5 separate regions of the Homo sapiens genome follow, and all the other regions are linked to region 2. The links come from fine-mapping of genetic effects on gene expression. A gene starts in region 2. Each other region holds a variant in brackets. All regions are shown on one strand. Distances are from middle to middle.

Region 1 (5,100 bases), 100 kb after region 2:
CGGCGGCGGCGGCGGCGGCGGCGGCGGCGGCGGCGGGGCCGCGCTCTGCTCTTTCACCTGCCGGGGCCGGCGCGGGCCGGGCCGAGGAGGCGGCGCCGCGGCCGCCCTGCCAATCACCGCGGCGCCTGGCAGCGCCCCCGGCCGCGCCCGCCCGCCCGCTCCCTCCTGCCAAACTGTTACCCTGAGTGTTACCGGCAGGAGCAATGACATCAGGGCTTTAAAACAACTTGTTATTCGGGGAGTAATCAGTTGCAATTAGGCATTAATTAAGTATTATGAAAGTTGATTATTTAAGTGAATTCGGCTTTCGACTCTCCGACTATGGTGAGTACCGGGCGCGGGCGGGGGAGGCCCGGGGGCCGCGGTCTCGGGCGGCGACCCGGGCGCGGGGCGCGGTCGGCGGGACGGGGGCGCCCCTGGGCCTCGCGGATCCCCCGGCCAGGGCCCCCAAGCCGGGGCCGCGCCGGCCGAGAGTTGCTGCCTTAGTTGGAGAAACTCAGGCGGCGCGGACCCGCGGGCGCGTGCGGGGCCGAGCGTGAGAAGCGGGCGGCGCGGAGGAGAAAGTTTCTCCGCCGCGGCCTCGGCGCCCGCCCGGGACGGGCCGCTCCTGCGGGGCGGGGGACAAGCAGGGCGGGCGGCCGGGGTCCCGCGAGACGCTAACCCCGTGTTTCTTCTCTCCCGGTCTTCCCCTGGTGGCGTTCTGCGAAGAGTTTGGGACCAAGGAGAAGAGAATGGATCTTGGAACAGGTACCGGCCGGTGGGAACGCAGGGGCGGCTCTTTCACTTTTCTTTCGCTTCTTTTACGGAAGTTCTTATTTTTAGCCCAATGAGGTGGCGGCGGGGCCGGGTGGGGGCCGGGAGGGTCGGGCGGCTGCCTCCCGGCGTCCCGGCCTCGGGATCGGCGACTTCTGAGGCTGTTGTTGTTGTTATTTGCCACTTGCTTAGAGGCTGTGACTAATGTGATGCTTGTCATTATGAAAGAACCGAGAGGAGCAGGAGCTGGGGGGCACCCAGAGAGAGGATTTAGGGGGTTTTTGTGGGGTTTTTGTTCTCCGTGTTTTTTGTATGGCTTCGTGTTTTTTTTCTGTGTGTGTGCCTTTTTTTTTTTTTTTTTTTTTTTTTTGTTCTCTGCAAAGATCTTTGTGTGTCTGGCTCTGGGGTGTGTGTTTTTATTTTTTTAGTGGGGGGTGGTTTAGTTTTTGAAAGCAGCGTCCTGTTGGGAAAGGTGGTTAGTCTGGTTTCGGGGCGACTGTCTCAAGGTAAAGGAATTTAATTTATTTGGGACAAGGCTGTGTCGGATGATCAAGCTGCTTATTATGGCTAATGAGTATTTTTCACCTGAGAATCTGTGGGATGAGGTGGCTGTTATCAGTTCAAAGTGAGGGGCCCCGGACTGTCTCCCACCTGCCTCTTTAGCCCCCACCCTAGGGGTGGTGATGGACCAGACAGACTACTCAACGTAGGCATCTGGGTTTGGGGGCCTCCTGTGGGACAAGGCCGGGGGCTCCAGGAGGCCTGGTGCTCACCTGGGGCAGTTTATCCTGATATTTTGGTGTTTTCTTGGGTTTAATCTAATTCTTTCCAGTGTTTTTGCCTTCAGCTCTTGCGGGCTTCCCATGGGCCCTGGCTATTGAAACCAAATTTTGACCAGGACCCTCACGTGCTAGGTTGACAAAAGCAGCTGTCTTCTTAAATGTTTTAAAAGAAACAAGCAGCCCGATCATTCATTGAGACTGATCTCTGAACTCTCCTGGTTCATTGATGGGATAGGTGATACTGGTGGCTGTTAGCGTTGTTGTTTATAATAGGCCCAAGTTCACAGCATCGGCCCTTGGGACCCATGAGCTGATATCTGACCTTCTAAAGGTCAGTGGGCAGAGAGACCGGAGGCAGCCCTGAGGGGATGAGGATGGGTGGCACGGTGGCCGGTGAAGAAGGGCCTGTGTTTGTTGGGGGGAGGTGTCATTTGCAGAGTTTGAGGACTGTGTGACACCAGGTGTGATCTTGGCTGGTCTGACGTGGAGGGCCTGGGGACCTCTGCGCCCGGGAAGGGTGTGACACCCCCTGCTGGGCAAAGTGGTAAAGGTGTCTAAGGCCAAGGCTGCCACCCTGCCCCTCCCTGCCCTCCACTCCCACAGAGAACCTGCCTGCCCCCACCTCCAGTCGGTGTCTCATCACCTCCCTCTCAGGCCCCACCCCCTTTCTTCGGAAATGGGGCCCCCACCCATCCCAGCCAAGAAGCAGACCTCAGAGATGGGCCTGGTGGCAATGCACCACCCCTTACCTGGGGCAGGAGAGCCTCTGCTTGTGGGCCAGCACACAGGACCCAGGCATTGCAGAGCTGGAAGGCAGGCCCTCTGGTCGGCCTCCTCCTAACCTGGGTGCCAGCTGGAGCCAGCGTCCATCCTCCTGCCATCCACCAACCAGTCCCTCCAAGTCTGTCGTGGGGACAGTACTCCAAAGCCCTTCTCTAGGGTGTCCTGACTGGAGCGAGGGCCTCCCAGCCCTGGTAGGAGGCAGGTGGCAGAGCCTCTTGTGGCTTCTCTCCTGGGCCTTAGGGAGACTGACTTCTCCCAGCACTCCAGGGACAGGCTCTGGAAACTTTTCCTAGAAGCTAGAAGGGACCCTGAGGTCAGCTGCTTCCTCCTGTAGCTGGAGTAGAGCACTCCCAGTGGGACTCAGGCCTGGACTCTGGCCACTCAGAGGGGAGGCCCAGGGTGGCAGAGTTCTGACTGTTTCCTGGAGGAGTCATCTGGTGATACCATCTCAGTCTCTTCTTTGAACTTGGAAGTTTCACTTATAATCTCAGAACTTCAGAAGAAAAGCAGTCTTCCCCCCACTTCACCAAAAAAGGGAAGCAGATGAGGACGCTGAGATCCCCTCTGAGCTGGTCCCTGGGCTGACTCCATGCTCATCTTCAGGAGCTGGGAACAGCTCCCTCAACTTCATAGTGCACACGGCATACAGCTGGGGCCATGGGCCTCGTCTCTGGCCGGGGCTCGTGGCTGGTGAAGTGAGGGTCCCTTCCTCTGGGGCAGCGTGGGCAGCTTCAGCCGAGGGCCTCTCTGACATAGTCCAAGGCCAGGGGCGCAGGCCTC[G/A]AAGGGCTGCTGGCATCATGGACCCACCATGCCTCCCTGATCGTAGGTTAACATCCCCGCGGCCCCGGACACATCTAGGTCCTGAAGGCCTTCAGCCATGAGGAAGTCAGTGGTGGGAGAGCCAAGCCTTCTCAGGAGGGGACAGAAGGACCTCAGGACCCTCAGGGGCCATGTGGACCCCCTTTCCCCCACCATAGTTCAGCCAAGGGCTGGATCAATCTGGACGTCTTTAGCAATAAAAAATGCCGATGTCGTCCTAATTCACCAGGCCCCGAGATGACAGCAAATTTACATTTTTTAATTAAACTAGCAGCCAGTTTTTATGAGAGGGGGTTGGGTTATGCAAATCAAATGGTTGTGTACGGAAGATTAGGAGAGTTTGGGAATAAATTCCACAAATGCTAATAAAAAAAAAAGGAAAGAGAGGGAGGGAGGGAGGGAGGGGAGAGAGGAAGAGAGGAGGACATAGTTCCATTAGGCCCTTTTAGAGTGATTTCCCTGGGGGAGGGAGCGGGAAGGGGGGAGGGGAGATGGGAGGAAGCTTTCAGACACAGGTACATCCATCCTGCAGTTGGGAAGCTCCCAGGGTTAGGTCCCACCAGGCTGATTCCCAGGCCCTGAACACAGCTAGAAGCCAGGGTGAAAATGGCGGTGAAGCACGGGTGGAGCTCTGAGCAGGCGTTCGCCCTTGACTCGTGGGGATCTGATGATAGTTGCCCCTTCTCTTCTTGAGACAAAGGGGTGGGGCTGTCCAAGGCGCGGAGGAGCCAAGATAGGCTCTACAAGGTCAAGGGCCAAAGAGGCAAGAGGGCAACTTTAAAGGGATGGCCACGGACTGCAGGGGGTGCCGGTGAGGGACAGTGCTGCCCATGTGTCGCTGTGGCTGCAGCCTTGTCGTCGAGGCGGGTCAATGGGAGGAAGCCCGGCCGGTTTCTTTCTCCTTCTGGGGCTCCAGGCCAGGACCCCCTTGCATTGCCAGCAGATCCCCCATCGCAGACAGCCCAGGCCTCAACTGTGGGGAGGCCAGGAAGCGTGGGATCAGAAGCTGGGCCAGGCTGGCTCATTTTCCTGATTCTCAGTAGCCCCATGCTTTGAGAGCATACTGTCTTGAGGTAGGCCGCAGACTTCTTCTAGACGGTGTCTAAGCTGAGAGAGCAAAGAGCTTGGCATCCCCAACCCAGCCCCAGTGTGTGCTGCTCAGGCCCCTGCCCTGAGTGTCAACCACCTTCAGATCAGACCTTCCATGAGCTGCCAGGTCAAGGCCAGAGCCTTGCCAAGTGTGGAGGCTTCTAGGAACCTCACTAGCTCTGGTTACACCTTCGACCTGCCAGGCACCGGGGACTGAGAAGGTTCCTGTGCTGTACTGGAGGAAGAGATTCCACGCCGGGTTTAGGGCAGAGCAGATTGCTCTCAATTTCCTTCCTCCAGCCTTTACTTGGCCAGATACACCCACTCAACCAGTCTAAGCTGGGGCCAGCCCCTGTAGCCAGGTTGGGCACCGGTTTTGCCAGTCTGCTGCAGGGGGTAGGTGCTCTGGGGCCATCTTGGCAGAAAGGAGCTGTCAGAGCCCGGGACAGAATGGGCCATCTCGGAAGTCATGAGTTTCCTGGTACCATTCAAACAGAGGTTTGTGCTGTGCACCGGTTAGTGACATTTAGAGGGACTTGAGCATCAGATGACCTTTAAGATCTTCAGCTGTCTGACTCCCAACTTGATTTTGTTCAGTGGGGCAGTCCTGGCGGGTGGGAGTAGGGGGTGAGTGGACGAGGTGAGGAGCACATTATTTGGACCTTTTCTTTGGTGGAGAGCATTGGAGACAGGCAGCTCTGGGCTGTGAAGTGACCCTTTGAACCAGCCCTGGTTCTAGTTGCAAGACGTCAGAGGAAACTGAGGCTAAAAGGCCTAGCATAGCCTTTCCTCCCCAACAAGAGGCAGAGGCAGAAGGGCAGGTCCGAAAGGCTCCCTAGAGAGACCCCACCCCTGGCCCTTTTTCCCTGGTAGG
Region 2 (5,100 bases):
AGGTGGGAGAATTACGAAATATTTGAGAAAAAAATGGAGGGAGGAATACACATTTTAATAAAAGTTTGGTGGGTGACGTGGCTGTTGGAGACGTTGAGAGAGGTGGGAAATGGTGTGCGGGAGGGCATTATAGTGGGAAAGGGGTAGGGGTGAGCCTGATAGTGAGAAGTGGGGTAGGCCTGATAGTGGGACAGAGAGACAAGTGAATTCTTCCCTAGCCCCTCAAGGGCAGGCTTTGTCTCATTCATCTCTGTCTCCCCAGCACTGGTGGAGATCTGCTCTTCCTCGGAGCTTAGTCATCCCTACCATATGAATGAATGAGTGAAGGACTATTGTTGGAGGGGGAAAAAAAGGACAAAGGAGAAGGAATGGAGAGAGGATGGAAAGAAATGAGAAGTAAAGGGAGCACTGGATGTCCCAAGGAGCAATGACAATTACTGGCATTTATCGATCAATATCTTGGCCCAGGCCCTTTTCCTGCATTAACTCATTTTAGCTTCTCAACAATCCCAGGCAGTAGGTACTATTATTATCCCCATTTTACTGTGGAGGCAACTGAGGCACAGACGGGTCAAATGCCTTCCTCAAGGTCACCCAGCTGGTGGAGCGGTAGGGTCTCACCCCCAAGCCCAAGCTGCTAACCCCTTCTTTACGCTGCCCCAGGAGTGGACTCAGCCGTGAGCCAATAAGGTAGAAGAGCTACCTTGCCACTTCTCAGGTTACTGCCCCTCACTGTGCCTCAGTTTCTCCTTCTGTAGGATGACAAGATTGGGCTTGAGATCTCTGGGGCTGTGCATCCTGCTAAGTCACCAGGCACAAGGGTCTTAGAGATGGTGGGTGAGCCCTCAACCCCTGAGAGCTGAGAATGCCTTGGATGGTGGGGGCGGCAATGGAGAGTAACCAATCAGTGGTCTTTGAGGGATGTTAATTATCGTTGTGTTGCTGCTTCCAGTCAATTATTGGGATAAGGAGGGGGGAAAACAAAATGAACCCGAAACATGTGTCTAATGTCTAAATCTGGCTTTCCTGTGTGGACAGATCCTGAATGGACCCCCAGAACTATTCCAGGAAGTGAGGAGCTGGTTTTTTGAGCTGGTTTCTTCCCCAGTCCATCTAACACAAGCAAATATCACTGAGTATCTAAGGAGTGTGGGATGGCTCAGCTTCCTCTCCCAAATTTGTTGGCTTTATTAGGGCACAGGGCAAATCCTGGCCTCCTCAGGGCCAGAGGGCCATCATGTCTCCAGTCTGTGTCCATATGCTTCTGGACAATTAACTTCCAGTTTAAGGCAGGACATGGGAATGCATCCCGGAAGATGCTTGTCTTAGACAATCATCATACAGGGTTTTGGGTCGTTTCTCTGGTCCTGAGAGGCTTTCCTGACACCTTGCAGATTAGGCTCCAAATACTACCAGCCTGCAACAATGTTTACCAGCCTGTGGCATTGCCTCTTAGTTTAATGCATTCTGTTGAGCAGGGCTTGAAGCTGTGGGTCATACTTTGAATTTATATTCATTTATTCCACAAATCATTGATCTATTTCGTTTACTGTTATGGTCAGTTTCTCACTTATCTCATCATCTGGGTGTTTTCAGTTTCTTTCATGCCTCTCGATATTTCCATCCCACGCTTATGCTGAAGGGAAAAGCAGCTCAGGCCTGGAATGAGGGGTGCGCTTGCTGAGAAAGGCAAGACCAGAGCTACAGGGCCTCAGCACTGAAGCTGACTACTAGGCTCAGCTGGTGTGGCCACCTCAAACCAACTGGGAAATGGGAAGTCTGGGTATGGGAGAAAAGGGGGTTTCTTCAATAAAGTATGAAAGTGCCCCTCAAAAGGCCCTTCCCCCCCATCTGGGGGCAAGGGGATTATCTCTCGCAAGACACTGCTTTGTTTTGTTTTGTCAGAAATGAGGTCTAGCTATGTTGCCCAAGCTGGTCTCGAACTCCTGGGCTCAACCGATGCTCCTGCCTCGGCCTCCCAAAGTGCTGGGATTACAGGCGTAAACCACCATGCCGGCCCCCAAGACACTTTTTAGCCTATTGCCTTGGTTTATTTTCTTCATGGATACTTTCACTCTCTGAAATAACATTATCCACTTGTTTTAATGTGTATTATCTGCCCCCCCCCCAGCCCCTCCATGTAAGGTTCATTCTGCACGGCCTATCTTGCTCACTTAAGGATTTATTTCTTGCACAATAGATTGAATGAAAAACTCCCTTGCAAAGAATAAGTGCAAAGCAGATATCAAACAGTGAGAACATTTCGTTCCTTTGGGTTCCACAGTTCTAACATTCTAACTTGCAAAAAAGAGCCAGTTCTTCTGTCGAAAGTGGGAACCGAACTCGGGCTCTCTCGGGGTTCAGAACAGGTGGAAAGTAACCCCCCCCCCCATCCCTTCTCTCTTTTCCCCTAGCCTCAACTCAACTCAGCTGGGGGGGGGTGTAGAAGCCTCTGGACCTGCAAAAGGGGGCCGAGCGCTCAGATGCTCCTCCGCAGGCCGTGCGACTCGCCGCGCGCACACGCTGAGCTCAGCCCGGGCGGTGGGTGGGAAGGATCCGGGAGGGGCAGGTCTGGGGGTGTGAGGGTGGAGCGGAGCCCGGCCCCGCGATCCGGCCCGGGTTTTGCATGCCACCCACTCGCCCGCCCGGCCGCGGAGAATTCCATAATCACAGCGGGCGAGAGCGGAGACTGGGAGCGAAAAATCCGGGATCCGGCAACTTTGGGCAGCGCATGCGCGCCCGCGGCGCTCCATCCCAAACACACACACATTTTTCCCCCGGACTTGGAAAGTCACCCAAAGCCGCCCCAAGTGCAGGTAAGAGACTCGGCGCTCCCTCCGCCGCGGCCCCCCCACGTCCCCCAGCTCCGCGGGCCTCCCGGGGCGCCTCCCCGTCTCTCCCCCTGTCCCGGTGCACCCCCCCCACCCCCGGGGCTGCCGCTTGCAGCAGGGAGCGGGCGAGCGAGCGAGCGAGCGAGCCAGCCAGCCAGCCTGCGATCGGCGGCTGCCACCCAACTCCGGCCGTGCGGAGGCAGGGGGCACGGAGGGCTGGCACCCGGGCGCGGGGCGGCGCGTTGCCTGCCGTGGCCAGGGGAATGCCCGGCGCGCGGCTCCGGGGGAGGGGAGGGCTGCTCCTCCTGGGGGTCGCTTACTCCAACTGAGGGGGTGGCGGGGTAGGGGAGAAGAGAGGGAGGTGCCAGGCGCGAGCACAGGACTTTGCAAATAGGGTGGGGGCGCCCCACGCGCTGTGGGCTCCCGGGGGGGCAGGTGATCTCCAATACCGGGTAATCACTCCTTCCCCTTAAACCCCCACCCCACCCCACCCCCCAGCAGCAGAGGGGTCGTGCGCTCTCCAGGGCAGAGAAGGAGGCGGGGTGAGGGGTGCCTGGGGTGACTTTGCAAGACTTTGCCCATGGGAAGGGGTGGGTGGGGAACCCCTCCAGCCGGCTCTTGTGCCCGGATACCGGGTGTAGGTGCTGCCAGCAGAGGTAGGCAGTGTTCGCTTAGGCGCGGGGTGCCAAAGGGTATCCCCCATAGGAAATCGAAGGCAAGAGATTTCTTAGATGGGGGGAGCGGCGCCCCCTTTTTCATCTGTGCCTGGGAAGTTTATCTCAAGTGCGCTGCTCCAGGCGCGGCAAGTGGCGTTCCTCACTCCCTTCCCCACCCCACCCCCTGCCTCCCCAGCTGAAGGGCTGGCAACACAGGGCACGGGGAGCCGGGGCATCGGCCCAGAGCTGCCCGGCTGTCGGCTGGAGCCCGCCTGGGTCCCGGGGAAAGTTCGGGCGAGTTGTTGCCGGCTGTTGTGTGCGCCAGAAGAGAAGTTGCGCCCGGGGACGTGGGACGCTGGGCTGGCGGGCTAGCGGGCTGGTAGAGTGGTGCGCTCCGGGGGGGCTCTGCAGCGTGGGAGAGGGTCGGTCGGGGTCTGTTCCCCCAGGGTGGGCTGAGGGTGACCTCGGAGCTCAACAATTGGGGAGGAGGAGCCCTGAATCCAAGGGCACAGGGCTGAAATAGGCACCTGGTGAAGGACAGAGAAAAAAGTAGTTTGTGGGGGCGCAGGGAACACCAAAGGGAGAGAGCCGGTTTCCCGGTCACTTAGGGTCCGGCTTAACGGCAAAGGAGAGCGTGGTGACTGACGGAGGAGCGTCGGGGAGCGGGGATCCAGGGGGCGCGCGGGAATGGGGGATCGGGCCAGACCGAGTCAGGGATCTCCCGGGGCAGGGGGCCGATTCGTGCGCCCGGGGTGAGCCGGACGGGCGGAGCGGCGGCCGGTTTATTTTTACTCGGTGGCATTTGCAGAATGTGCAGCTGATGGCCGTCGGCCGCCAGGAAGTTTTGCTTTCTGTTCTTTCTCTCTCTTTCCGAAGCCAGCACTGCCGGGAGCTGGCGGGCCGGGCAGCCGGGTCTGGAAGGGGAGGGGGCGGCCGCCGGGGTGGCGAGGTGCGGGCAGAGGCGCGCTGGGGCCGCTGGCGGGGGCTGGCCGGGCGCGGGCGGGCGGGCGGTTGCTGGGCCGCTGCGGAGCGTTTGGGCGAATGTCTGTCCCCGGCGCTGGAAGCTCCTCCGCGAAGGGAACAGGTGTATGCGCCGTCAATCACGGCTGGAGGGACACTTTGGGGGCGTAGATTAAGATAATAATAATAGATTTTTCTCTAAGGGGTGGGCGCAGATTCTTCTTCCAAGTCATCCCCGACCCGGGTCCGGAGTTGGGGGAGGCTAGTGGAGCGCTGAGGGAGGCAGGGGACCCCCTCTTCCTCCACACAAGTTCCTCTGCCCCAGCTTCAGCTTGGAAAGCCGGCTCTGGGCGCGGCGAGGACCTCCTTCCAGCCACGCTGGCTACGGTGCGGGTGCGGGTGCGTGCCCACCGGAAAAGCGGCAGTAGCGCCTCTCCTGAGTATGGAGCTCCCCCAAACCTGGATCACTGGGCCACGGGGCGGAGTGTGCGTTTCTGACCGAGTGGAGTGTGGGGGTGCGGCCCTCATTGTGCGTAGTTGTCCCGCCGACACCCGGTACACTCAGGGGGTGGCGAGGGGGAAAAGGCCCTGGTAGTCGCGGGGCAAAGTTAGTAAATTTAGGACGTCTCCGAGCTGGTACAGGCGCGCGGTGA
Region 3 (5,100 bases), 120 kb after region 2:
TTTCTCAGCCTCTTGGACCTCGGTCCCTTTCCAGGTCTAAAGTTCTGTGCACCTAGGACAGCCTCCACCCTGATAGCTGTCCCCTGTCCCAAGGTGCGTTGGACCTAAGTGCAGGCTGCCCTCCTTAGCTCCGTGTCCAGCCAGAGCCACTTGCCACACCCCTGCCATGCCCCACACACAGGTTCTAGAAACAGTGGGTCAGGACGAGCAGCTGCTTCCCTGTTTGCCCACTTTAGACGTACCCATGAGAAGGCCCCTGTCCCCTCCTGCCCTCCTCGGTGCCACCCAGACACCCTCTGCCTTGCCCTCTGTCAATCCTTCCCCTGACCCTGAAGGTGCCTTCCCCTGCCCCCTCCTGCTCCAGCGAGGCTTTGGCGCTGGGTGACTCCGTCTGCCTCCTCCAGCAGCGAGGGAGTGTGAGCTCCTGGCGTTCCTTCCAGCCTGAGCAGAGCGGCTGGAGGCTTGGGAGGCATCACCTGCCCCCTCCTGAGCTCTCTCTGTCTCGACCCTCCACTCTGCCCTCACCGTGACTCACTCATCTTGGAGGCGGGGGGCGATGGAGCCCCAGGGGGCTCTGCCCAGGAAAGAGGGGGAGAAAAGCTGCTGGCTTTCCTTCACGTCCTACGTGCCAGAGCCCAGGCAGCACTGAAGTCTGTGGGGCCCTGCACCCCCTGACTGGCTGTGCCCACAGGGGCCTCAGCGAGAGGCAGTGGCAGAGCCAGGCAGTATGGGGTTCAGCCCGGACAGAGTGCATGCCCTTGATACCCGCCAGCTGCCAGGACCTAGATCCCGGGAGACAGGATGTTAGAGAGAGTCTCTGGCCCAGCCCAGCATCTCTTCTCCATGCAGGCTTCACAGAGGCTCCTGCTGGCCTGTGTGGCTGGGACGTGGAGGAACCAGCAAAGGCGTCCACGTCAGGAAACTGTGGGGCTGCTCGCCCCGGGCCAGGGGCTCGTTTCTGAGCTGTAGGCTGGTCGAGGGCAGGCACCAAGGTGGAGGGAGGCCTGCTGTGGAAATAGGATCCCAGGGCACCCCTAGGCAGGTTGGTCCACCGAGGCACAGAGAGAGATGGAGAGGCACAGAGAGAGATGGAGGAGCCCAGGAGGAGAGCCCCTTTGTTCAGAGGATGGTGGAGAGGCCTCCCCGGGGGCTCTTGGTGTCTTCTTTGTCCTGGTGGGAAGAGCCTGCATTGGGGATGTTCTGTTGAAAGGTCACCTTTTGGGGCTAACGCTGTGTGATGGAGTGAGAGCTTTGCTTCTGTGGTGGCTCTCCTTGGAGAGGAAGGACAGGGGTGAGCATGGGACAGGCAGGGGCCCTCCCTCAACGTGGCCGACAATAGCGGGAGCCCAGGGCTTCCGGGAGAGGGAATGAGAAGCAGCATGGGGGACGGGGGTCCGGGCCAGTCCAGCAGGGCCTTGGTGTCTGTCACTTGGTTGGCATGGGTTTGTCACCACCCTGAGATCACACATTCTGTGTGACCCTCAGGGGTTCCTGCTGTCCCTCCTTCCTTGGCCCCCAAGCCTCTGAGCAGGCCTAGGTCCAGGGGGAGCCCCGCCCTCTTCCTGGGGCCCCTCCCTGGCTGCTGGGGTTGGGCGCCTGGTTCATCCTGACTGTCTCTGCCATCCCTGGCAGGCAGGTGTCTGAGCCCCTGGGATGGAACTTGAGGGAGAAGAGGCAAGGCTGAGGGTAACAGGCCTAGCCCTGCCCATCCCAGGCAGCTCTGGCCCGGACCGGCCTGCCAGGCCAGCTCCCTGCAAACCTTGGGGAAAGAGGACTTTGCCGCTGGGGACCCACCTGGCCCAGGAAGCTGGCCACTTTCTCCCTTTGTTGGGGGTGGGGGGGGGGTCATGTGCTAGGCTGGCTGGCCCCCGAGTCCTTACCCATGCTTAATAGGGGCCAGGAGAGTTCCCATAGTGCCCTGGCCACAGGATCCAGAGGCAGGGGTAGGGGTACCTGCCCA[A/G]CTGGGAGAGGAGCCCAGAGTGGCTGGGGTCCAGCCCCAGGAATCATTAACTGCAGGGTCTCCTAATGCCCGCAGTGTCGGGGGACCTGGCACCTCCCCCAGCCAGGTCCGTGCGGAGTTGGCCGGATGTGACCGAGGCACTGGGCTCCCGGAAGTGCCTGAGGCTGAGCTGGGCACTGGCCTCACCCCTCTTGAAGCCTCCCCACCCAGGCCTGTTCCCTGCCCATGCCAGACCACCCCGCCTGCTCGCACTGTGCCCACCCTGCCACCCCAGGACCCCCATTCCTTCCCGCCAGCCTTGCCTCGGGGTTTCTGGCCCTTTAGGCCTCAGGACTCCCTGGCTCGACCCTGGCCCCGTCCTCTGTCCCCACTGGCTTCACAGTCACATTTTGCTGCCAGCGCAGGGCACTGAAAAACTGCTGGCACTGCCAAAAACCCTGTGTGCGCTACGACTCCCCAAACATCCCTTTATTTTTATTGTTCTGTTAATTACTGTTTAAACTTTAATAAGTCACTTCGTCAGGAGGGGGGACCTGCCGTGAGCTTTTCTGTGCAAACATGGGCCGGGAGTGACTCGGGTGTAATATAACCCTTTATGCGATGTGGGAATGTTTAGATTGTAACAGAAACTTGTTATTTTAATGACAGTTGGTTGCGGGGGGTATCTGAGCACAGAAAAACAGGAGGGGTGGGCGCTCCCCTTGCATCCCCACGGAGGGCTTGGGGCAGCCAGGGCTGCTCCCCTGCTGCCACGACAGAGGGCCCAGGGACCCATGGGGACCTTCTTGGGCTGCCCACTGGTCAGCTCCAGACTGGGCCTGGATGGCTGGGGCAGGTGAGGCCCAGGAAGAAGTTGGCTTTAGCGGGGATGGGAGCAGGAGGCCTAGGGCAGCTCTCAGATCCCCAGGCAGAGGTGAGCAGGGCCACACGGGGCTGAACTCCAGGTCCGCGGTGCCCTGCAGTTACCAGGCAGGAAGCAGTGCTCCCGGCTCCGAGGAGGGGACTCTGCCCACAGTCACCGTGGAGCATCAGGGAGGCACCGTGTGCTCTGCAGCCCCAGCCAGACGTGTGCCCACATCATCCCCTCAGCAACGCTGTGTTACAGTTGGGGACCCGAGCCCAGGGCAGGGAAGACGCTGAAGTGATGAGCTTTCCAAGGGGCCAGGTCTCTGGAGTCGATTTGTCTTATGTGGAAGTTGCCAAAGCCCAGGTGCCCCACGGTGGCCTCAGAGGGCTGGACGCCCTCCCGCAGCAGCGGTGCCGGGGAAGGCTCGGACCCCACGCTGGATTCAGGACTGTCTGCGTCGGCTGGTGGGGGCTTGGGCCGGGCATCTCTCAGGTTCCTCTTTGCCTTCATCAGGAGAGGGAGCAGGCAGGTGAGGCAGGGTCACCCTGAGACCTGGAGGCACTGGCCCTCCTCTTAGAAGGTCTTCCCATCTCCGGGGAAGTCAGGGGCTCATGCCCAGGTAGGGGTGATGGTGGCCAATGCCCTGACTCTGTAGGAAGAGGCACTTCTGCACCAGAGCTGCTTCTAGTGCAGGGGCACCTGGGGAGGGCATCTTGCCCCAGCATCTGTGGGGCCCCTACAGGCACCTCAGGATACCTTAGGGCCTGTTTCCCTGCCTTGTCGCCATTCAGTCCATCTGTCAGTCTGTCCGTCTGCATAGCTGAGCTTCTGCTCTGATCCAGGCACTGCGGTGGCAGGGATGACAGAGGCCTGCACTTGCCCTCAAGGGCTAGCCCTGGTTGGGGTTAGTACAGGCCATCCAGAGAGGGCAAGGAGGGCAAGACCCAGGGCGCCTGGCCTCAGCCCGAGGCATGGATGGTCCTGTTGAGCCAAGGAGGAGACCCTTACTCTCTGGGCTCTCCTGCCCACGGAGGGTCCACATGGAAGCTGTCCTGCCCTCGCCCCACCTCCTGCTGGCAGGGCCAGAGGTTCAGGGACCGGGTTCCCTAGAGCTGGAGGTGAGAGCCCCCCAGATGGTGGCAGCAGCATGGGCCACGAATCGCTGAGGTTTTCCTTTTCCAAGCAGCGCGTTTCCCTAAATTGTCTTTGACTGCGTGCATGGGTAATGAAAGTTTATGCCCTTGTTAGAAGGACAGGCGGCCAGTTCCAGTTAGAACTGGGGCTGTCTCCCTGCCAGCCCCCTCAGCCCCCCTCCCCAGCAGGAGAGAGGCAGCGTGAGCACAAGAGTGCGAGAGAGTGTGTGTGCGTGCACGCGCGTGTGTGCACACACACAACCTCCCCCTCCCTGGCGGATAAGAAGGCTGTTAGGCGAAGGGAGAGGGGACGAAAAAAAATTTCCATATTTGTGTAAGTTGCTTTAAAAGCATTTTATCATGTCATAAAAAAGGGAAAGTACTCTCAGAAATTGATCCTCTCCGCCAGCCCATTGGACAGAAGGACGTTGGATGTTAATGGCCATCCTGCTCCAGGGTGGCTTATTAAAAAATTTATACATAAATGCTTAAAATTGCATAAATTATTTAAAAAAACCAACAAAGTAAGCAATTTGAATTCCCTCTTTTCCTCCCCTTCACTCGGTCCCCCTTTTCCAGCCCCTCCGCAGGGCCCTCCCGGTCCCCAGGCTCCCGCCCCCCTCGGAGCTTTTCCCCTCTTTTCTCCACTCGCCACTGCACCCCAACGCCGTCCACCGTGCCTTCCTCTGGGGCTTCCCTGCCTCACCCACAAATTAATGGAACCGCCAGCCCACCTCCAAACACTCACAGGCACACGCGCTAATAAAAACACCACTAATAATGCCCCAAATCGCAAAATTAAATATTAAGGCCAAAGGAGGCGGACGTGGAACGGAGCCGCCGCCACCGTCGCCGAAGTTGGAGCTGATGAGTGTGTCTCTCGCAGGCGTGGAATGTCACCCACACATCCTGGAGACTGGAGTGGGGAGTTTTATGATGGTTTTTCATTGATTTGTTTCCCCAGCGCAGCTGCCGACCTCTATTGAGGGACAAACATAATCAGCACTGACGCAAATTAGATGGTTATTCGTTTTGAAAATTGACAGAAAAACAATAAAAAAGATGAAATGCTCCCAAATCAATAGATATAATGAAATTCAAATAATCCGAGAGATGAGGTCTCCATGGCAACTGATAATGTGGAAAAGAAAACAATTTAA
Region 4 (5,084 bases), 950 kb before region 2:
GGTCCGTACTCCCTATAATGAATGGACCGTGGCTTACTGGTCCATACTCCCTACAATGAATGGACTGTGGCTTCCTGGTCCATACTCCCTACAATGAATAGACTGTGGCTTCCTGGTCCATACTCCCTACAATGAATAGACTGTGGCTTCCTGGTCCATACTCCCTGTAATGAATGGACCGTGGCTTACTGGTCCGTCTCCCGACAGTGAGGCTGTTTCCAGTTTCTCACAACTGCAGCTGCTCAGCAGCCCTCTGCCCGGAGCACAGCCCCTTCCCCACAGCAGCCTTCCTCCCTGACCCAGAGGCCCATGTCCTCTTCTTTCGGGGCTCTTGCCTCTGTCTGTAATCCTCCAGGTGGGAAGACTCCTAGGTTGAGAGCAGGCTCCCAAGGTCACCACTGCAGCCCCAAGCCCGCTCGGCACCAGGCAGGTACTGAGCCTCTTTTGATTGACAGATGGACGCAAGAGAATAATGGGAGTTGTGCACTAGGCCTTGACCCTGTGCCAGGGACAAGCCAGGATGGCCTGGGAAAGCCCTGGCACTTGGTGCCCAGGGGGCAGAAGAGCAAGCTGTGAATAGCTAGACCTGTCCGTGGGGTGGGCCGAGGCCCTGGGGAACTTCTGGACGTGTCAGCCCAAGTCAGCTGTGACCAGACACAGGGGCTACCAGGAAGAGGTCGCCCCTGCCTCCTAACCTAGCATCGTCACTGGCCTGAGGAGCAGGTCCACTGCTAACAAGTTCACCATCACTTAGGGAGCCCTCCTCACGCCAGGCACTTCACACCTGGAGCAGGCACCAACCCTTTCTAGAAGACACTGAAGGCATGCAGCTAGTAAGTGGCAGAGCAGGATTCCAAAGAGTGCCTGGGTCATCTGGTTCAGAGAAACGGATGCCCACGCACCACACCCACCAGTGTCTCTCTCTCCTGTGGCCTCTGCTAGGCCAGAGCCAGGCTCAAGCCCAGCTCAGCCAACGCACATGCCTGTTTCCTCCTGCCATGACAGAATGGGGCAGCACAGCACAGGCTCCACCTGGGAACTGGCAGGAGACATCTTCCCAGGAACAAGGCCAGGCCCCAGCCCAGCCAGGAGATTGAAGGTGGTTCAAAACACAGCCCATCTACAGAATTCCCCAAACTTTAATGCTGTGCTCTGAAAAGGGAGGCTGGAGGTTGTGGTGGGACACAGTGTTGCTGACACCTCTGGCCTCCAGCCCTGCATCCCTAGGCACCATGTGACCAGGCAGTGAGAAGGACGGGGCCTCACTCCCATGCCAGACTGCTCCTCGGGCTGAGCAGGACCTGAAGCTCTCAGGGCTTCCACCAAAGCCCAGCAAACTTGGGGGAGGCCTGAGGGGGCATCAGCAGTCCTTAAAGGCCTGAGCTTGCAACACTCAGGCAGGACTCGGCTGAGGGCCTCTGTGGTGCCACCATGGGGTAGGAGGTAAAGAGAGACCCTGGTTCCAGCCTGGGAACCAGTGGGTGCCCTGAAGGGAGGGGAGGCCTCAGGGAGTTCGGGACAGGAGTGTGCATGGTACTGGGCGGCCCATGGGGGCTCCTGGCCTCTTGGTTCAGGCAATCCCTGAGCTGGGGACACATTCCATCTTAGGTCCAAGAGACGGAGGTCAGGAGCATCCCTAGAACGACCTCCCAGGCACGAGGAAGGCCCGGGGCAGGGCCGGGCGCAGCGTGGCTGGCTTCAGTACCCTCGGGCATCTTGACTCCTGCCCTCTGGGACTGCAAAGGGATCTGCGGGCGCCTCTGCTGAGTCAATCGTCTGGTAGGCACTACGGTCCTGAGAAGACCCAAGGAAACCTAGGTGACAGGGGACATGGTGGGAAAGAAAAATGAAGGGTGAGAACTCGGGATGTTCAGCTGAGTCCAACCCAAGATCCACCCCCGCCACCCTCGGGCTGGGCATCCTGACACCATGCACAGAGACAGAGGCAGCAGCCCCAGGCCCTAAACCTTTAGCGTGTATTATTCATTCAATCCTGCCGTATCCCTGTGCGACGGGTATTTTTATTGTCCCCACTTTACAGATGAGGAGACTGTGGGTCAAAGGGATGAAGTGACTTGCCCGAGATCACACAGCTCAAAGCTGATGATGCTGGGACCCACGCCTAGGCAGCCGAGTCCAAAGCCAGGCTCCTGGCCCCTGTGCCATGGGCTTCCCCAGGCAGCACGTGCTTAGGAACCTGGGCAGAGGGACATCAGCCCCGGGCCCACGCACTCCTCTCCAGCTCCCCTCCCAGGTACAAGGACACCACATTACCATATCCAGATGGCCTCGGAGGCTGGGGCTGGGTCCAAGGCAGGGCCGTAGGGCTCCGAGTACGCCACATGCCTCACTCCCATCCCCTACTCTGTACATTCATCCCGGGACCCTGAACAAGTCCCAAAGGATGTGGGCCTCAGTTTC[C/T]TCATCTGTCCAATGGGAGAAACATTCTGGCACCCCTCACCTGGGGGCAGGCCCAGGCAGTGCTGAGGTCAGCCACTGTGGGCAGCCCCAGGCCATTCCCACCCTCAACCAGCTGGTGGCAGTCACAGGCCACGTGGGGCATCTCATCTCAGGAGTGAAAGGCAGAAGGCCACACCCTACCACCTCCCTCCACTCCTCTCAAAGAGAGAGAGAAAGGAAGAGAGAGAGAGGTGTCAGAGAGCAGGCAAATGGCTCGGCCACCAGGAGAAGGAGTACAGGAGTTCAGAGAGGGCGTGGGAGAGGGCAGGTGTAAGGCTGGGTGAGTGGGGAGGGGCCGGTGGGCAGGGAAAGTGCCCCCTGTTCAGGGCTGTCTTCACTGAGGCTCCCACAGCCTACACTGGCACGGGCTCTGCCCTGGCCACCTAGCAGTCTCTGCAGCAGGAGAGGGAAGACCCCATGTGGCAGGAAATGGGGTTCCAGTGATGGGCCCCGGTGAGAACAGAGAGGAGACCTGTAGGTGCCCGTGGCCCTCAGGATGGAGACAGCCCAGGGCTGCCCCTGGGAACTAAATGGTACCCCCAGCTGTGCCTGTGTTCTGGGCTGAGAGAAGGGCCCAGCCTCAGCTTCACAGCAGAAGAAGGTCACGGCAGACCAGGACAACCAGGGGACCCCTGGGCTCCTGCAGCAGAGACTAGGAGCTTGGACCTGTCCAGCCTAGTACAGAGCGCCCATGCCACGCTCTCCCTGCACCTTGAGCCCTGGCCCCATGGGGCAAGGCTGGCTCACTGAGGGAGAGGCTGGAGGCCAGGCAAGGGAGAGAAGGGAGCGGTGAGGAGCTGGCTGGAGGTGGTGGCCTCACCAGTGTGGACCAGGAGCTCACCCCCGCGCTCCCGGTACATGTGGTAGACGAAGCAGCAGGAGAGCGGCTTGAGCAGCAAGCTGAGGATGGCCATGCCCACGCCAAAGCGGCCCGTGTCCGTGAGGCTGACCCGCGGGTAGAAGATGCTGATGTGCACGATGTCCAGGAAGATGGTGGCCAGCAAGCCACCCAGAAACTGCAAGACACACCACACTGATGAGCACAACACCCCCACCACGCTCCGTGGCTCCCCCGCCACACACCGGATGGGAAGCCGTTTCATGCCCTGCTGTGTCCTTGGGGCTTGCGGGAAAATGGATCAAGCAAGCAGGCAGGGCCCCGCTGGGGAGCCGCTGGCTGAGACTGCAGTCTGGGGGCAGGGATGCCGGGGGCCCAGGTCTCGGTTCCACCAGAGCCTCCCTCCCCACCCATTTCCCGTCATCTCCAAGGCCATGATGGGCACAAGACTTGGCTCTAGAACCTCCATAGAGGAAGGTTCCTTGGAGTTCACCCAGTCCTTCTCCAACACAAAGAAAATCTCTTCTCAGTCATCCTGAGGCCCTGGCCTCGGCTTGAAGAGCCCGTGCGGGAGTGCTCACTGCCCCACGGGGCTCCGTGGGTGCTGAGAAGCTCCCCCTGTGGGAGGTTTCGGTGGGGCAGGGTCACCTCTACTTCCTAAAGTAGTGAAATGCCCTCTTGGCCGGGTCTCCCAGCCATATCCCCTCCCCTAAAAGAGAGCCGCAGAGGGAGGTTACAGGGGATGTTCCACTGCTCTTGCGAAGTGGCTAATCCGAGGCACTGGTGGGACCCACCCCATGGCTTTCCTCAGGGAGATAATGGCAGACTTGGGGTTCTCTAAGCCAGACAAGAAGAGCAGCAGGCTGGGCTCCTGAACACAGGCATGGGCCGGAGCCCAGGAGGCTGATGAACAGGCTTTAGACAATGGGAAGTGGTGGCCCAAGGAAGAGGGGGAAGATTGGGATGGGACGGGGTAGCAGAGCCAGGCTATGTCTTGCCCTGTGCTGCGGCTCCCCGCCTTGCCGCCTCTCCCCCACCCTGGCTCACCATGCTTATGGCGTCGATGGAGTCCCGCTGAGCCACAGCCCACACGCCCAAGGCCAGGATGGTGAAGTTGGCCCAGGCATAGGAGCCTGAGAATACAATGCAGCCCCTGTAGGAAGAGGTAGCTCAGTCCCGTCAGGAGGCCACCACCCCGCAGGTCACCTCCCTCCTGCTCCGGCGTCTCAGGGCCTCCTCCCAGAACATGCCATAGTCTTCGAGGCCACCCGGCTGTGTGCCAGCAAATCCCATGGGCTCCGCCTCCCACCCAGACCCTGGATCTGGCTGTGTCCCTGTAGATCCAAAGCACCTCCCTCTCCTGGCAGATGACAGCCGCAGCCACCCTGTGCCAGCGTCCTGACTGCCACTCTGTTCTCTAAACAGCAACCGGTAACGTAGTCAGATGCTGTCACTCCTCTGCTAAAAATCCTCCAACAGTTTTCTGTCCCATTTGGAATAAAATGCAGACTCTTCACCAGGGCCTAAGGGGCCTGTGGGATCCCGGACACAGCCTCGCCCTACTGACCTCCCAGCCACTGCCCTGTGCGGCGGGCGCCCTCTACCCTGACACCTGGCCCTCCTTTTGTCATTCACCCTGAGACTCGAATGTTCACCCTGAGACTCCTTCCCTTGCCCACCGGTGCTAAGTACAAGTTCGTCACTTTCCTAACACAAGGCCCGCCCTATTCTATTTTTAGGGTACTGATACTGACATTGTTGACTTACTTGTCAATCCAATCAAAAT
Region 5 (5,100 bases), 210 kb after region 2:
TCGCCCAGGCTAGAGTGCAGTGGCGTGATCTCCACTCACCGCAATCTTTGTCTCCCAGATTCAAGCAATTCTCCTGCCTCAGACTCCGGAGTAGCTGGGATTACAGGCATGCACCACTGCATAGAGACAGGGTTTCGCCATGTTGGCCAGGCTGGTCTTGAACTCCTGACCTCAGGTGATCTGCTCACCTCGGCCTCCCGAAGTGCTGGGATTATAGGTGTGAGCCACCACGCCTGGCCTTCTGATTCTACTTTTAAGACCACCTTGTCTGGTATTACTACCGAGTTTCTTGTGGTTAGTGTTTGCATGGTGTATCTTTTTCCATCACTTGACATTTAATCCTTAAATATCTTTATACTAAAGGTGTGTCTGATGCAAGCAGCATTGAGTCTTTTAAATCTAATCTTGACCAACTGCTTTTAATGGAGTATTTACTCCATTTATATTTAATGTAAATGCTGAACTTTGGGGGTTTATATCTTTCATATTACAATTTGTTTTCCTTTTGACCTGTTTAGTGCTCTCTTTTCTCTCCTGTCTTCTTTTTAATTCAGTTTTTCTCTCTATTACCTTGTAGTCAAGGTGGTTTCTGATGGATTTCTCTACTGCAAAGTTACTATCTTTTCTTTCAGAGTTAATAAATAGCTCGGAAAAGACACTTTGCTCTTTCTCTTGAAACCTTCATCTCATTTTAGCACCCGTCAATGGAATTTGTCTGCAACAGTAATTACTGGATGTTTGCCTAATGGGAGATCCTCAATTAAGGGTGAAAGGGGTCCTGAGACTAAAACACTTGCGAACCAACGCCCTAGACATCACAATATATCCTTTACTTACTATAGTGTGATATAAATGAGAAATTTTACTGTTCCCCCAAAGATCCTCGCACATATAACTTTCCCTCCACCCCTCCTTTTGTGTACTGGCATGCATTTCAATTATAATGTATGTTAAAATCCACAAGAAAGACATTCTTATTTTACACAGTCAATATTCGTTGATATGTGTCCTTTTGTTTGTCCTTCATTCTTTCCTGCCATTTCTATGTTTCCATGTAAGATCATTTTCTCTCTGCCTGAAAACTCCTTTAGTGTTTCTTTCAGTACAGTGTGCTGGTGATGAATTTTCTCTTTTTGTTTGCCTGGAAATGTCTGTATTTTCCTTCACTTTTAAAAGACATTCTGTTATGAAATAATTTCTGATTTACAGAAAAGCTGCTGAAAGCATAGTACAAAGAATTCTCATATATCTTTCACCCAGGTTCTTTAAATGTTAAATTCATCACACTCGCTTTATTATTCTCTATTGATCTGTCTATATGATTACTTTCCCTGAACTGTTTGAGACTAAGTTACAGACATCACACCCTACCCCTTAAATATTTCAGTAAGCATGTCTTAATTTGGGGTGGGAGTCGGGGAAGCTCATGCTTGTATATAACCACAGAATAATTATCAAAATCAAGAAGTTAACAATGTTACATTTATATCTGTAGCTCAGATCTTTCCTCTGAACTTGATTCATAATATCCCTCTGCCCACCTGATACCTCCACTTGGATGTCTGATATCTCAAACTTAATACGTCTAACACTGAACTCCTAATCTTGCCCCACCAAACTGCTCCATTCCTAGTTAATGACAACTCCAAACTTGTAGTCACACAAGGCCAAAAACCTTGGAGTCATCCTTAATTTCTACTTCTCTTTCATATCCAGATCCCACAAATCAGGCTATTCTATTGGATTTACTTCCAAAAAAATATCCAGGGAATCTGATCACATCTCAACACTAGACTAGTCTCCCAGCTTCCACCCTGGTGATCCTATTAAACCTTACATCAGATGGTATAACTCCTTGCTTAAAACACTCTGATGATTTTCCATTTTACTCAAAATAAAACCAAAGTCCTTACCAAGATACTGTTGCCCTACACAACCTTACTCCCTGTGAATGCTGTGACCTCGTGTCTCACTGCTATCCACCTGGCCTACCATTCTTGTTCCTGGAATTTGCCAGACACAACTTCCTCTTCAAGCTTCTGCATCGGTCATTCCCTTTTCCTGAAACTCTTTCTACCCAGAAATCTGCATGGTTTGCTTCCTC[G/A]TTTTCTTCAAGTTTTTGCTCAAAATGTTATCTTAGAGGGGCCTTTCCAAACCATCCCATTTAAAATAGCAAATTCCTAAGAAGAATCCTCTATTGCTCTTACTCATGTTTATATTTTATTCTATTTACTGTCTTCTCCCTCCCACTCTACCATTGCATTTGGGGTTATTTTATTCACTGCTATGTTCCTAGTACCTAAAACACCTAGGTTCTACTGGCACCTAGTAGGTATTCAATAAAAATGTGTAAAAAGCCAGGCGTGGTAGCTAATACCTGTAATCTCAGCACTTTGGGAGGCTGAGGCAGGAGGATCACTTGAGTACAGGAGTTCAAGACCAGCCTGGACAACATAGTGCAACCTCACCTTTTTAAAAAAAAAAAAAAAAAAAGCTGGGTGCAATGGTGTATATTTGTAGTCTCAGCTACTAGGGAGGCTGAAGCAGGAGGACTGCTTGAGCCCAGGAGGTCAAGGCTGCAGTGAGCCATGACTGCACCACTGCACTCCAGCCTGGGTGACAAAACAAGACTCTATCTCAAAAAAAAAAAAAGTGTAGAAAGAATAAATAAACGGAAACCCCAATATGTAAAACAGACAAAAGTAATGTTCAGGTTTTGAGAGGTCCGGAGGGGTACGGAGAAAAATCAGAGTCCCACCTTCTTGATTCCCTCTTTGCCCCTGAAATATCTCCTCAGAATCTCCAAGAATCCCCAGAGGTAAGTATAAAAACCGTTACCAGGCCAGGTATGGTGGCTCATGGCTGTAATCCCAGCACTTTGGGAGGCCGAGGAGGGACAGATCACTTGAGGTCAAGGAGTTCAAGACCAGCCTGGCCAACATGGTGAAACCCCCGTCCCTAATAAAAATATAGAAATTAGCCAGGTGTGGTGGCAGGCGCCTGTAATCCCAGCTACTCAGGAGGCTGGGGTGGCAGAATTGATTGAATCCGGGAGGCGGAGGTCACAGTGAGCTGAGATCGTGCCATTGCACTCCAGCCTGGGCTACAGAGTGAGACTCCATCTCAAAACCAAACCAAACCAAACAAAACAAAATGCCTGTTACCATATATTCACCCTGTACTAAATAAAGCAAACTAGTTTATTCATCAGCCCCTGATATGCCTTATACTCTGGAGAGAGTCAGGCATCAGTCTTCCACCCCTGATGTTCCAGCCATCAGAGTAGCTTCTTCCCAACCCTACTCTGAGCTTGTCAGTTGTTCCGGGTTATCTCTTCCATCACCAAAGCTCCTCTGTGATCACCCTAGGTAGAAGTACTTTTCTACAGCAATTACTATCTAGACAATACTCCTCTGGTTGTCAAACATAGATGGCTTTGTAACCTTTCTTTTATCTTATATGGTTTTCTGAGGATTTTAATGGTGTTGAACTTTTATTCTCTGCCTTATTCATTACTGTATCCCCAAAACCTAAAATACTGATCAACCCATAGTGGTCATTCACCAAATAATTGTTCAATGTGTGAATAAATGTGAATAAAGCACACTGGTGCTTCATGAATTGCAGATTTTCAATAGCTGTAAGATATATTTGTAGTACTTCATGATAATCCCTTTTTTCCCCTCTTAAAAAAAAAAAGCTGTTTATCATAAAACTCATTATCACTGTCATCATTAACATTTAACATTATTCTTGGAGTTTCATCCTATGTAATAAAGCAGGAAATAAAATTAAAATGTCTATGAACTAGAGACAAGTTTACAAAATAATCAATTGACCATATACCTATAAAATTTAATTTAATCATGAGAAAGTGGGATGGCAAGATATAGTACATAAAATTAAAAATCAGTAGCACTCCTATGTACCAGCAATAATTAAAAAATAAAATGAAGAGAAATTCCTTTCATAATAGCCATGAGAAATATAAAATTACTATAGTCTTACAAAATGTTAGATCAGTATAAAGAAATGTTGCAAAGAGAAATAAAGGGAGACAAACGAAAAAGCCTTTCAAATTATTTTATTTTTATTTTATAAATTATTATAAATTTATAAATTATAAATTAAATAAAATATAAATTATTATAAACTTATAAATTATTTTATAAGTTTAACACAATTTCAATTAAAAAATCCCAATTATTTTAAATTATCTCAGATGTTCCTCAAGCTTATCTGGGAGAATGCACAAATAAGAATAACAAGGATTAGCCAGGCACGGTGGCTCACGCCTGTAATCCCAGCACTTTGGGAGGCCAAGGTGGGTGGATCATAAGGTCAGGAGTTCAAGATCAGCCTGGCCAAGATGGTGAAATCCTGTCTCTACTAAAAATACAAAAATGAGCAGGGTATGGTGGCGGGCGCCTGTAATCCCAACTACTCGGGAGGCTGAGACAGAGAATTGCTTGAAACCAGGAGACACAGGTTGCAGTGAGCCGAGATTGCACCACTGCACTCCAGCCTGGGCGACAGAGCCAGACTCTGTCTCAAAAAAAAAAAAAAAAAAAGGATAACAAAGATCCTCGTTTAACACCAAGGTCAGAGGCAACAAGAATGGAAACAGGTTTCATTCTGCCCTCATGGGATTCCAGACTGCTCTTAATTTTCCTTTTCTGACTACCTGCCATGTAGACTTCAAGCTCCAGCCTCAGACGTGGCAACAGCATACTATTTCCCATTGGTTCTGCTTCTCTGGTTGAACCCTTCCTGAGACAGAGAAGACTGTTCTTTTCCTTTGTCGCTCATATCAATAGGACACTTATTTGTTAATTTATGTGTCAGCTGCTTCCTCCACTAGAAGCATAACATAGTGGTTAAAAGCAAAAATTAGAAAAAAAGGTGGCTTATGTTTTAATCCTGGCTCTGACACTTAATAGCTATGAGTCAGGTCCTTCATCTGTAAAATGGGAATAAAGTTGTTATAAAGATTAAATAAGGTACTACTTTTATAGATCAATGCCTGGCATATATAAGCAGCATATGAACTTGATGAATAAAAATATAATAAAAATAATGCACTGAAAAAAAAAAGAACAG

Alleles and levels. Positions count from the first base shown, and alleles are read on the strand shown. Sizes are in standard deviations (SD) of each study's normalised expression. Not every link is listed here.
In carriers of allele T in region 4, the expression in visceral fat of the gene that starts at base 2,734 in region 2 tends to be higher than with C alone (moderate effect, 0.55 SD a copy in GTEx).
For the expression in monocytes after LPS of the gene that starts at base 2,734 in region 2, allele A in region 5 goes with a higher level than allele G (large effect, 0.83 SD a copy in Kim-Hellmuth 2017).

The links.
Region 1: its variant is fine-mapped to the expression of CASZ1 in whole blood (TOPMed, PIP above 0.99).
Region 3: its variant is fine-mapped to the expression of CASZ1 in whole blood (INTERVAL, PIP above 0.99).
Region 4: its variant is fine-mapped to the expression of CASZ1 in visceral fat (GTEx, PIP above 0.99).
Region 5: its variant is fine-mapped to the expression of CASZ1 in monocytes after LPS (Kim-Hellmuth 2017, PIP 0.95). The same link has a PIP of 0.9 or more in monocytes, monocytes after muramyl dipeptide and monocytes after triphosphate RNA.

Annotation. Positions count from the first base shown.
Region 1 is chr1:10,689,521-10,694,620 of GRCh38, reverse strand. It overlaps CASZ1 (castor zinc finger 1), which reads left to right. Exons shown (of 21, transcript NM_001079843.3): 4 at 709-747. The coding sequence starts at 732. Among named protein-coding and RNA genes, the nearest start is that of CASZ1, 100 kb to the left of the region's middle. RefSeq lists silencers at 23-192, 493-582. The variant G/A (reference allele first, on the strand shown) is at 3,099.
Region 2 is chr1:10,794,280-10,799,379 of GRCh38, reverse strand. CASZ1 (castor zinc finger 1) reads left to right here and starts at 2,734. Exons shown (of 21, transcript NM_001079843.3): 1 at 2,734-2,816.
Region 3 is chr1:10,672,538-10,677,637 of GRCh38, reverse strand. The region is part of intron 4 of CASZ1 (castor zinc finger 1); the gene reads left to right. Among named protein-coding and RNA genes, the nearest start is that of CASZ1, 120 kb to the left of the region's middle. RefSeq lists enhancers at 422-1,210, 1,211-2,001, 4,577-5,100. The variant A/G (reference allele first, on the strand shown) is at 1,961.
Region 4 is chr1:11,746,807-11,751,890 of GRCh38, reverse strand. It overlaps AGTRAP (angiotensin II receptor associated protein), which reads right to left. Exons shown (of 5, transcript NM_020350.5): 3 at 4,346-4,451; 4 at 3,281-3,476; 5 at 1,122-1,814. The coding sequence ends at 1,699. Among named protein-coding and RNA genes, the nearest start is that of C1orf167, 13 kb to the left of the region's middle. RefSeq lists enhancers at 2,353-3,029, 3,030-3,706. The variant C/T (reference allele first, on the strand shown) is at 2,422.
Region 5 is chr1:10,580,777-10,585,876 of GRCh38, reverse strand. The region is part of intron 3 of PEX14 (peroxisomal biogenesis factor 14); the gene reads right to left. Among named protein-coding and RNA genes, the nearest start is that of PEX14, 110 kb to the right of the region's middle. The variant G/A (reference allele first, on the strand shown) is at 2,105.